Homo sapiens: one gene and its partner. Changing the gene in region 2 together with the main gene of any one other region gives a genetic interaction. Each region holds a gene or a part of one and is shown on either strand. Other genes may lie near its edges.

Evidence for each region.
Region 1: changes in ALAD (region 2) and SKP2 together harm fitness less than expected from each alone (positive genetic interaction), as found in Homo sapiens cells (one large-scale study listed by BioGRID).

The regions. Positions count from the first base shown.
Region 1 is NC_000005.10:36,157,421-36,162,110, reverse strand, and holds part of SKP2 (S-phase kinase-associated protein 2), read right to left. Parts: intron 1-4,690. UniProt on the Homo sapiens protein: Substrate recognition component of a SCF (SKP1-CUL1-F-box protein) E3 ubiquitin-protein ligase complex which mediates the ubiquitination and subsequent proteasomal degradation of target proteins involved in cell cycle progression, signal transduction and transcription.
Region 2 is NC_000009.12:113,392,534-113,398,414, reverse strand, and holds part of ALAD (delta-aminolevulinic acid dehydratase), read left to right. Parts: exon of another isoform or gene 1-337; intron 338-1,140; exon of another isoform or gene 1,141-1,369; intron 1,370-1,959; exon of another isoform or gene 1,960-2,957; coding exon of another isoform or gene 2,958-3,008; intron 3,009-4,777; exon of another isoform or gene 4,778-4,780; coding exon of another isoform or gene 4,781-4,855; coding exon 4,856-4,968; intron 4,969-5,881.

The sequences.
Region 1 (4,690 bases), on a different chromosome or scaffold from region 2:
GATCACTCTGGCTGCTGTGTTTAGAACAGAAAGGTGGATGCAGGAAGCGCAGTTTTCTTTCATAGAAGCAATCTCTAAATAACTATTCAACAAGTATGAAACTCTTACATATGAATACATAGAATAATCCCACAAGCTCAGGATAATGTAACAATTGCCAAGAAGGAAATAAATGCACAATGAAGGAATCCTAAAAAACAGTCAGATGAGTTCAATGATTGCCTTCCTAGGCTTTCCACCTCTGATGGATCTTCTACACCAATTCTGGTGATATTCTCTCCTCCTACTCCCATTTAAAGGTGCCAGTCTTTACTGAGCATGTCCTTTGTACCAGGCCCTGTATAAGTGGGTTTGAGGACACAAGGGAGAAAAACACCGAGGAGTGTGACAAACACCTGCTGCCCTGGGCAGTCTTTCTAAACCAGCATGTCTTTCCCCCAGTTAGAATCCTTCAGTGGTACACCCCAGGTATTTAGGCTAAAGTCCACAATGCTTAGTACAAAGTTAAACGCTTTCAGCCAGGTCTCAACTAGTTTTCCTAGGTTTGTTATCTAGAAATGTGTTCCAGCCATTTGGAGCTACCTGTAATTCTTAGAATGAGTCATTCTGTGCCGTATCTCAATGCTTTTGCACATCCTGTGCTTGCCTCCAACTACTATTCATTTAAAATCAAATGGAAGCCCCAGTTCCCACAGAAGGCCTCCCGTGACATCAACAAGGACAGGCCACTTATGTACCATAATTTCATTATTTACTTACTCATCTCTCTAGACCCCCAGGAGCTCTTGAGAAACAAAAACGCTTTTTTTTTTTTTTTTAACAATTTTTGTATTTTCAGGAACTAGCATAAAATTGATACATTCATCCACTCCCATATTTATAAAATATGTACTATACACTGAGGTCTATTCTAGGTTTTAAGGACACAATGATAAATAAGGCACAATCCTGACCCTTATTCTGCTCAGAGTTTGAGAGATATAGACAAACAGGAAACTTCAATAACCTATCCTGATGGGCTACAGTAGGATTCGGGGTGCTGTGCAGCTTATGGGAATGGCGCAGGGGTTAGGGAAGCCTTTCTGGAGGAAGTGGCCTCTCTTGAAGAATGAGTAGGAGATACACAGTTGTTCAATGAATGCCTGTTCCCCTAGCCTCACGCCCTTCAGGGGACAAAATTAAAGGACTGACTGAGGCCCTGAAAGCTAGGGGTAGAAAGCTGAAGGCAGATCACCCCTGCTGATCTGGGGAGGCAGCTGGAGGTTGTGAGGAGGCTCCTCGACGTGGCAGCTGTTCCATCACTGCCACAAAGTTCCTCCAAAGTCAACATGGGCAGGGGACAAAGGTTCTCAAACCAGGCTCTTGCCCTGCTCCCCAAATTGAAAACAAAGTTGAATGACAGGCTTTTCTCAAGTTTTTCTCCCATTAATCCAACTCTCTCAGACCTCTGCTGCCTCTTACATATCTAGATCAGAATCTAGTAATTGATTGGGCATAACTATATTTAGCTATAAGTATAGTCATCCACTCACGTATTTATTAACCATGTACTATATACACTGAGGTCTGTTCTAGGTTTTGGGCCACAACAATAAGTAAGGTACAATCCTGACCCTTATTCTACTCTGAGTTTGAGAGATACAGACAAACAATTAAACAGGAAATTTCAATAAACTATCCTGATGGGCTACAGCAGGATTCAGGGTGCTGTGCAGCACATGGGAATGGTGCAGAGGTTAAGGAAGCCTTCCTGGAGGAAGTGGCCTCTATGGAAGAGTAAGCTTAACTATACTTCAATAACATACTTAGCTATTTTGAATCTAATATGTTGAGATTTTACTATAATCTGTAAAAATCATACTGACACCATACGCTGGGCCTCCTCAACACATTTGAGGACTACTGGACTGAGAAAGCAGCACAGTTTCTATCAGAATCCTGGCTGTGTTGCCCCAAGTCTGTGAACTTGGGCAAGTTACTTAATCTTTCTGGCCTCAGTTTCTTTACCTGCAGGAAAGGAAATTGACAGATTTATCTTGCAAAATTGTTCAGTGAAGAGTAAATGAGGTACAAGAAAAGATTAAATAATGCAGCAGGGAGTAAAACTTTCTTTTCTATATTCCTCTCCTTTCCCAGTTAAGTCTGGGTATTTTCTTCATGCAATGACCTTTTCAGTGCTGCTCTGAATTTTCACCCATGGGCAGACACTGGACAAGGTCTGCATGGTATGACTTACCAAAACCCCGTATCTGCCCTTTATTTAAGTTTGGGTCCCCCAGAAGCAGATTCTGAAGCTCTGACTTCAAGTAGTTTATTTGGGAAGTGATGCCAGGAAGCACTAGAAAGAGTGGAGAAGACAGAGGTGGAAGGGAAGAAAGCCAACCTGGAGTAGGCTAATAGGCAGGTTATCCCTATGGGCAATTGGGGTTCAAATCTTCTGGGGACTCCAGTAAACCATCTAGAAACTACCCCAGAGCTGTCTCAACCAAGGGCACGAGTGCTGGGGTATTAATCCATCAATTGCTGTTGGTCACTATTTGGGGACTCCCCAGTATTCCTGCCCAGAGAAAGCCCTCAGGCATGGAATCTCATCTACACGTAGGCAAAAGCTTTGGCATGTAAGGGAATGGGGGGCTTCAAGGGGCTATAGATAGGGCACCAACAGAAATTATGGCTGGGGAAAGGAAATTAGAAAAGCTTGCTATGAAGTACAGGGCAGGAGAAATAAATTAACAAACTTGGTGCTTTCTATTAGGAAGACATAAGAAATCAGGACCAATTAAAAGAGCAGTAGCAGCCAGGTAATTAAAGTGCTAGAGGAAAATCTGGCATAGTGATGAATGCAGAGGTCAGTAGACCTAACCAATGAAGACTGCATGTGAGACTCCAAAGTCTGGAGGACTTTGTGTTGCAACTTCCATCTTTGCCTTCCCAACTCCTCCAGATTTCAGCTTAAATGGCACCTGCTCAAAGAAGCATTCCCACCCAGGATACCACCACAGGCCCCATGCCCAGATTTGCACATCCATTACCTAACAATGCCTGGCACATAACAGGACTCTATAAATATTTGCCAAATGTATTTATTAGCCCTCTTCATTCAAATGGTGAATGTGCTAATTCTTTATTAGTGTGAATGGCTAACCCTTATTAACCAATTAACGACTATGTGCACAGCACTGTTGGCATATGGAGGGGATGAGGCTGAAGACAAAAACCCAGAGCAGAAGGGAATGTCCTCTATCAGTATAGCTGTAGTCTCTGGGAGATGGGGGCTGGGGCTTCAAGAAAACATGCAACTATGATAAAAGAGACAAGGTCACACAATCAGTAAGTGGCAGAGGGGGAATTTAAACTCAGGTCTGATTTCAAATCATGCCCTTTCCATCCTAGTGGGTTCTAATATTCTATGCTCTCCTCTGTTGTAAGTACAAATTTTGAAAAGGTGAGAATTAAACCCGGACTTGCTATGGAAACAGAAATCAATCAGGGCTAGGGAGTGAGTGGAGGAGGAGAGAGAAAATAAAACAAAGATGCTATCAATGGGTTCACCACCAAATGGAAGGAGCAAGGTCCTAGAAAACACACATACTCAGCTAGCAGCCAAGTACCCAGTGCTCTTACTCAGCTGACCACAGAATGACACTAATCCTAGGGGCCCCGGGTGGGGGTACCACAGCCTGATATGGGCTGCTGTCCCAGCAGATGGGGCAGAAGTTTGTCTTTAATAGCTGCTCTAGCAATAGGCATCCAGGCTGTGATATGCTTAATCTAATTTTCCTTGCCATATTTAATTCTCAAAACATTAGCCATCTGTTTCCTGAATTCATGATGAAACTGCTGCCTGGTCTGTTTGCAGAGAGCGGAAGGAAAAATCCAGAGGTCTTTTCTCCACTTGTCTCTGCTAAATCCAGCAAGGCTGTAGCTGCATACCAGACCCACATTAAAAGACATAATTACTGAGCCCAAGGTCTCCAGTCTTCAATGACATGGACGGCAGTTAAATATACTTCAGGGCCAGGAAAGGGCAAAAACTGGGCCAAACCAGCAAACCTACTACAATCACCCTCACCTACCACTGTTTCCAATTATTTCTCAGGTGCAAACCCAGTTTCCCACTTCTGTAACCTTATCACATCTCATGCTTCCTGAAATTCTCTGGGAAGAGGGCCTTGTTGGAGAGTTTTCTATGCATTCCATCTTTGCAGTGTAGGTAACTCATCTTACTTGACATATTTATTTCTCAGAATATCACTCCACTCATTTATTTCTCAGAACATCACTCCACTCCACTCAGATTCAAGCTGAAAATCCAAAGTAATGCTAATCATAATCAAACTTTTGACTTAAAAAATTGCTGCTCTTTAAGCATAATCAGATTATACTTGCAGAAATGTATACTGAGGACCTGGTACTCATACTTGTTTTTGTGTGTGTGTGCATTTCTTTCAGGGAGTTGGGGGGTGCTCACCTCAGAATTGCTTTTGCTGGCTTGTTTTAAGTAGCAATACCCCATGCTTTCTTTCTGGGGAACTACAAACAGATTGTGCCATCCCAGATGAGTTCTCCTTCCTCTTCCCACAAACCATAAATAATACATTTGAGGCCATGTTGGCTTTGGGTGTTTTTGTTTTTTTGGCTAAGGTGGGCAAAACTGAAAAAAACAAAACACAGCCAAACTTAACAAGGA
Region 2 (5,881 bases):
GGGAGTTGAGGCCAGTGGAATGCAGCTTTGGATTCAGAAGCCAGAAAACAACAGAGATTGTTTGTGGGAAGTGAGTCAGAGAGATTAGACCTCTCTTCAACATCTGACTAGACTCTAGAATGGCATTAAGCAAGTCACTGAACCGCTCAGAGCCTCTGTTTCCTTATCACTAAAAGTTAGGACAATTCTTGCAATGAAATGAGATACTACTACCAAGTACTTCAGTGCTGTGCCCAGCACAGAACGAATACACTCAGTATGTTTTTCTTTTGTTTCTTCTGTCTCTCCAGCACCCAAAGCAGAAACAGTATGGGCAGAGAGACGCCTACTGAATCAGGTGTTTATCAGTATTATGAAATACAGTATATAAAACCCAGCATTTGGAGTCCAGAACAAATTCAAATTCTGGCTCAGTCACTAAGTAGCTATGTGGTCTTGGGCAACTGGCTTACATTTTGGTAATTCTCTCAATATGCAAAAATATTCTCTCGGCCAGGTGCGGTGGCTCACGCCTGTAATCCCAGCACTTTGGGAGGCAGAGGCGGGCGGATCACTTGAAGTCAGGAGTTTGAGACCAGCCTGGCCAACATGGCGAAACCCTGTCTCTACTAAAAATACAAAAATTAGCCAAGCATGGTCATGCATGCCTGTAGTCCCATCTATTTGGGAGGCTGAGGCAGGAGAATCACTTGAACCCAGGAGGTGGAGGTTGCAGTGAGCCGAGATCGAACCACTGCACTCCAGCTTGGGTGACAGAGCCAGACTCTGTCTCAAAAAAAAAAAAAAAAAAAAAAGAAAAGGAAAAAAAACTCCTGGCAGACATGAGAGCAAAATCGAGTACGAAATGGGCAGCTGGGACCTCATATCTACTGAATAATTGTCTGTTTGGAGGTTGAGACATGACTGGGGAGGCCTGGCCTGCCCCTGTGTTAGGTGATGGGGCTGGCCCACCCAGGGGTGTGGCAGCAGGGCTGGCCCCTGTGTGACTTGTGATAACCCCACCCTACCAAGGAGGAAGACTGGATAAAATGGGCCCCTGAGATGGCTGAAGGCAGCTAAAGGGGCCTAAGAGACTATGGGGAGAAGGGCAGCCAGTTCCTAGGCAGCCCTGCCCCACTGTTTCTGATAAGCAGGAGGCAGTTGTTCCCTCAGCCTCCTGAAAGCAATGAGGAGTTGAGGCCACGGGAATGCAGCTTTGGATTCCAGAAGCCAAGGACCTGTTACAAAGGTGGTTTTCTGGGAAGCAAATTAGAGGGATTAGACCTGGCTTCGACATCTGACTTGACTCCAACCTACCAAAGGATCTCCCAGTTCACCTGGGAGTTAACACACCAGGGTTCTAGTCCTTTTGCTCGCTGTGTGGCTTTGGGTAAGTCCTTGCCCCTCTCTGGACCTTGAGGTCCCATTCATACAAAAAGCAGTTGGACTCAGGCCTGCCAGCCCCCATTTTTGTGGCTCTTCCCCGCCCCTCCCCATCCTTTGGCTATGGGATAGTCTCCCAGGCACCTCCAAAAGGAAGTGTCTAAAACAGAGCTCTCCACCTCCTCTCCAAGCCCAGCTCCCCACTGCCCTCTTCCTGCCCTGTCCCTGTCTCCGCTGCCCTTTAGATCAGGCAGGCAGGCAGGCCTAGAGCATCCGCCCTGAGACACTGCCTGTTGGCTGCCTTAAGACGCCCCTTCCTTCTCTGCCCGCAGCCTCCCCAGCCTCTGCATTCCTCTGCTTCCTGTCTGCTCTGCTCAGCCTGCAGGATTGATCTTCCCAAAGCCAGGTGTCAACCAGGCCACTAACCCTACCCACTGCTCAGAAATCTTCCCACAGCCTCAGCCTGGCCCCCTCTTATCCATCCCCTCCATACACACTTGCCTCAGCTCCTCAAAACAGTCCACAGCCATCCTCCTTCCCCACCTTTGCCCCTTTCTTCCCTTCCTAAGGAAATATTGGCCCCCTTCTCTCCACCAGGCTGAACCCACTCATCCTGCAAAACCAAGTTCAACGCCCTGTCATTTTCTTTTTTTTTTTTTTTTTTGAGATGGAGTCTCACACTGTCGCCCAGGCTAGAGTGCAATGGGTGCACTCTCGGCTCACTGCAACCTCTGCCTCCTAGGTTCAATCGATTCTTCTGCCTCAGCCTCCAGAGGAACTCTGACTACAGGTGCACACCACCACACCCAGCTAATTTTTGTATTTTTATTTTTATTTCTATTTATTTATTTATTGTGAGATGGAGTTTCTCTCTTGTTGCCCATGCTGGAGTGCAATGGCACGATCTCGGCTCATTGCAACCTCCGCCTCCCAAGTTCAAAGGATTCTCCTATCTCAGCTTCTGAAGTAGCTGGGATTACAGGCATGTGCCACCACACCCGGCTAATTTTTTTTTATTTTTAGTAGAGATGGGGTTTCACCATGTTGGTCAGGCTGGTCTCAAACTCCTGACCTCAAGTGATCCACCCACCTCGGCCTCCCAAAGTGCTGGGATTACAGGCGTGAGCCACCGTGCCTGGCCTAATTTTTGTATTTTTAGTAGAGACGGAGTTTCACCACATTGGCCAGCCTGGTCTCAAACTCCAGACCTCAAGTGATCCACCCGCCTCAGCCTCCCAAAGTGCTGGGGTTACAGGTGTGAGCCACTACGCCTGGCGCCTGTCTTCTTCTAATATGCCTCTTCTGACCTCCTCACTCCCATTGGAGCCATGGCTCACTTCTGGTCAGGCTCCATGCACTCAATCAGCCCTGCCTGCCAGGACTGTAGTGCCCACTTGATGAGAAATCACCTGTGAAAATGCCAGGCATGGTCTGGCACACAGTAGGTGCTCAAGAAACAAATGTTAATGCCCCAGCTTCCTTCTGTCTTGTGTCCACTAATTTGGCATTTGGAGCATATTTTTGTACTTCACGTAATTAAATATTTACTGTGTGCCAAGGTCAGTGTGTGACAGAGCACTGTAGGGGAGGCAAAAATGAACCAACTCTGGACCTTGCCCTGCAGAAGCTCTGTCTACTGGCATGAGGTAAGACAGGTCCACAGATAACTTACATAAGAGAGACTGCAATCTGGACAAGACAGCCTCAGTGGGAGAGGGAAGGAGAACCCTGTAGATTTGGGTGCGGGGAGGCTGTGGGGAGAGCACAGCCTTTCAGGTAAAGGGACAAGGTTAGGAAAGCAAGAAGGTGTAGCTTGTGCTCGTGGAGCCCAGGAAACTCCTTGGGCTAGAAAAGATTTGGTGGCACTCTATACAGTGTATGTGTCTGTCTGTCTATCTAACATGAATGGTACTATTTTCTCCTATTGGTGTGCATTGTACCTAACAAAAAATCCATGTCCCAAGTACTTTTCTCTTTTCTTTCTTTCTTTTTTTTTTTGGAATGAAGTCTTGCTCTGTCGCCCAGGCTGGAGTGAAGTGGCGCTATCTCGGCTTACTGCAACCTCCTCCTCCTGGATTCAAGCAGTTCTCCTGCCTCAGCCTCCCCAGTAGCTGGGATTACAGGCACGCACCACCACGCCCAGCTAATTTTTTTTGTATTTTTAGTAGAGGTGGGGTTTAACTGTGTTGGCCAGGCTGGTCTCGAACTCCTGACCTCAAGTGATCTGCCCATCTCAGCCTCCCAAAGTGCTGAGATTATAGGTGTGAGCCGCCATGCCCGGCCAACAGTACTTTTCTCTAGAGGTAGAATTGCAGGGGATTTTTCTCTTTTTGCTTATCTGCACTTTTCTAAAAGTTCTGCCATGAACACGGGCATTTTTTGTGGAATAAACAAAGTTTAAATGTTGGCTAGATCAGTGCTTCTTTATGCATAAGGAAGGATTAGTTCTTTTTTTTCTATTTCCAATTTATTGATTCTTTGATAAAATGCAATGCAATAAAATTATTATTTTTTTTTAGAGACGTCTCCCTCTCTCACCCAGGCTGGAGTGCAGTGGTGCAATCATAGCTTACTGCAACCTTGAACTCCTGGGCTCAAGCGATCCTCTTGCTTTAGCCTCCTGAGTAGCTGGGACTACAGGTGTGGACCACCACACCTGGCTGATTTTTAAACTTTTTGTAGATACAGGGTCTCGCCATGTTGCCCAGGCTGGTCTCGAACTCTTGGGCTCAAGCCATCCTGCCACCTCAGCCTCCCAAAGTGCCGGGATTACAGGCGTGAGCCACCATGCCCAGCTAGAAAATTACTTTTTTGGCTAGGCACCGTGGCTCACGCCTGTAATCCCGGCACTTTGGGAGGCTGAGGCAGGCAGATTGCTTGAGCCCAGGAGTTCGAGACCATCCTGGGAAGCATGGCAAGACCTCCATCTCTACAAAAAATTCGAAAATTAGCTGGATGTTGTGGTGCACACCTGCAGTCCCAGCTACTTGGGAGGCTGAGTTGGGAGAAACAGTTGAGCCCGGGAGGTCAAGGCTGCAGTGAGTCGAGATTGCACCACTGCACTCCAGCCTGGGCGACAGAGACCCTGTGTGAAAAAAAAAAAAAGAAGAGAATTTTTTTTAAACAGTCATTGCTTGCTCAGATGTTTACTTTAAAAGATAATAATGAACAAGAAGCAGTCACATAAAATACAAGCCCAAATTTTATATCATTAGATTCTGATTGTCATGAAAGTTTCTAAAGACTTACTTTCATTTCTCAACTTACCTTGTTGACCAGCAGGGATTGGTGAACCATGCTGTGAGTAGCATTGGGCTAGAGAGAGGGGAGGCAGGAATCTAGAAGAGCTGTTTTCCAGATGTGACCATCTCCTGAGGACAGGGACCATGTCTCATGTGCCACCCATCACCCCCCACAGACAGAGCCTGCAGCCAATGCCCCAGGAGCCCTCGGTTCCAACCAACTGATGCCCCTGTGCCCACTGGCCCACGCCATGCAGCCCCAGTCCGTTCTGCACAGCGGCTACTTCCACCCACTACTTCGGGCCTGGCAGACAGCCACCACCACCCTCAATGCCTCCAACCTCATCTACCCCATCTTTGTCACGTGAGTCTCCAAGAATGGGCCAGGCCTCTGCTCTGCTGGTTGGGGTTGGGGTTGGGGAGGGAGTGTTGACTGGAGCGGGCATCAGTATGGCTGGGGGTGGCAAAGTGAGCTGTCAGCTTGAAATTCAAGGCACTGGAAGCAGGCTACTTGGATTAAGGACAGGAATCTTAGGAACAAAACAAACTTTGAAAGAACTCATTCATCCCATTTGGAAAATTAGAAGAATAACCCTTGCCTGCCATCCTGAGCTCTTGCAGTAAGACAGAAGCTGAGAAGGTGCTCTGTACATTGTAAAGTGCTATGTACCTGTAAGAGATGGCAGTCATTGAGGCTGGGCACGGTGGCTCACGCCTGTAATCCCAGCACTTTGGGAGGCTGAGGCAGGCGGATCACGAGGTCAGGAGATCGAGACCATCCTGGCTAATATGGTGAAACCCTGTCTCTACTAAAAACACAAAGAAATTAGCCAGGCGTGGTGGCGGGTGCCTGTAGTCCCAGCTACTTGGGAGGCTGAGGCAGGAGAATGGCGTGAACCCGGGAGGCGGAGCTTGCAGTGAGCCGAGATTGCACCACTTCACTCCAGCCTGGGCGACGGAGCCAGACTCCATCTCAAAAAAAAAAAAAAAAAAAAGAGATGGCAATCGTGATTGTTAATAATAATGCAGACATTTACTGAGTACTTACTATCTACCAGGTACTATGCTAAGCACCTACACACATTATCTCATTCAATTCTGAGAGCATTTGTATGAAGAAGGAGTAGCTATCCTCTAGAACATCAGCTCCATGAGGGCAGGGATGTTTGTCTATTTTGTTCACTGTTGTATCATCAGGGCCTAGAACAGTACTTGGCACATAATAAGTACTCAATAAATATTTGTTGAATGAATGAATTAACCACGCATGATATAGA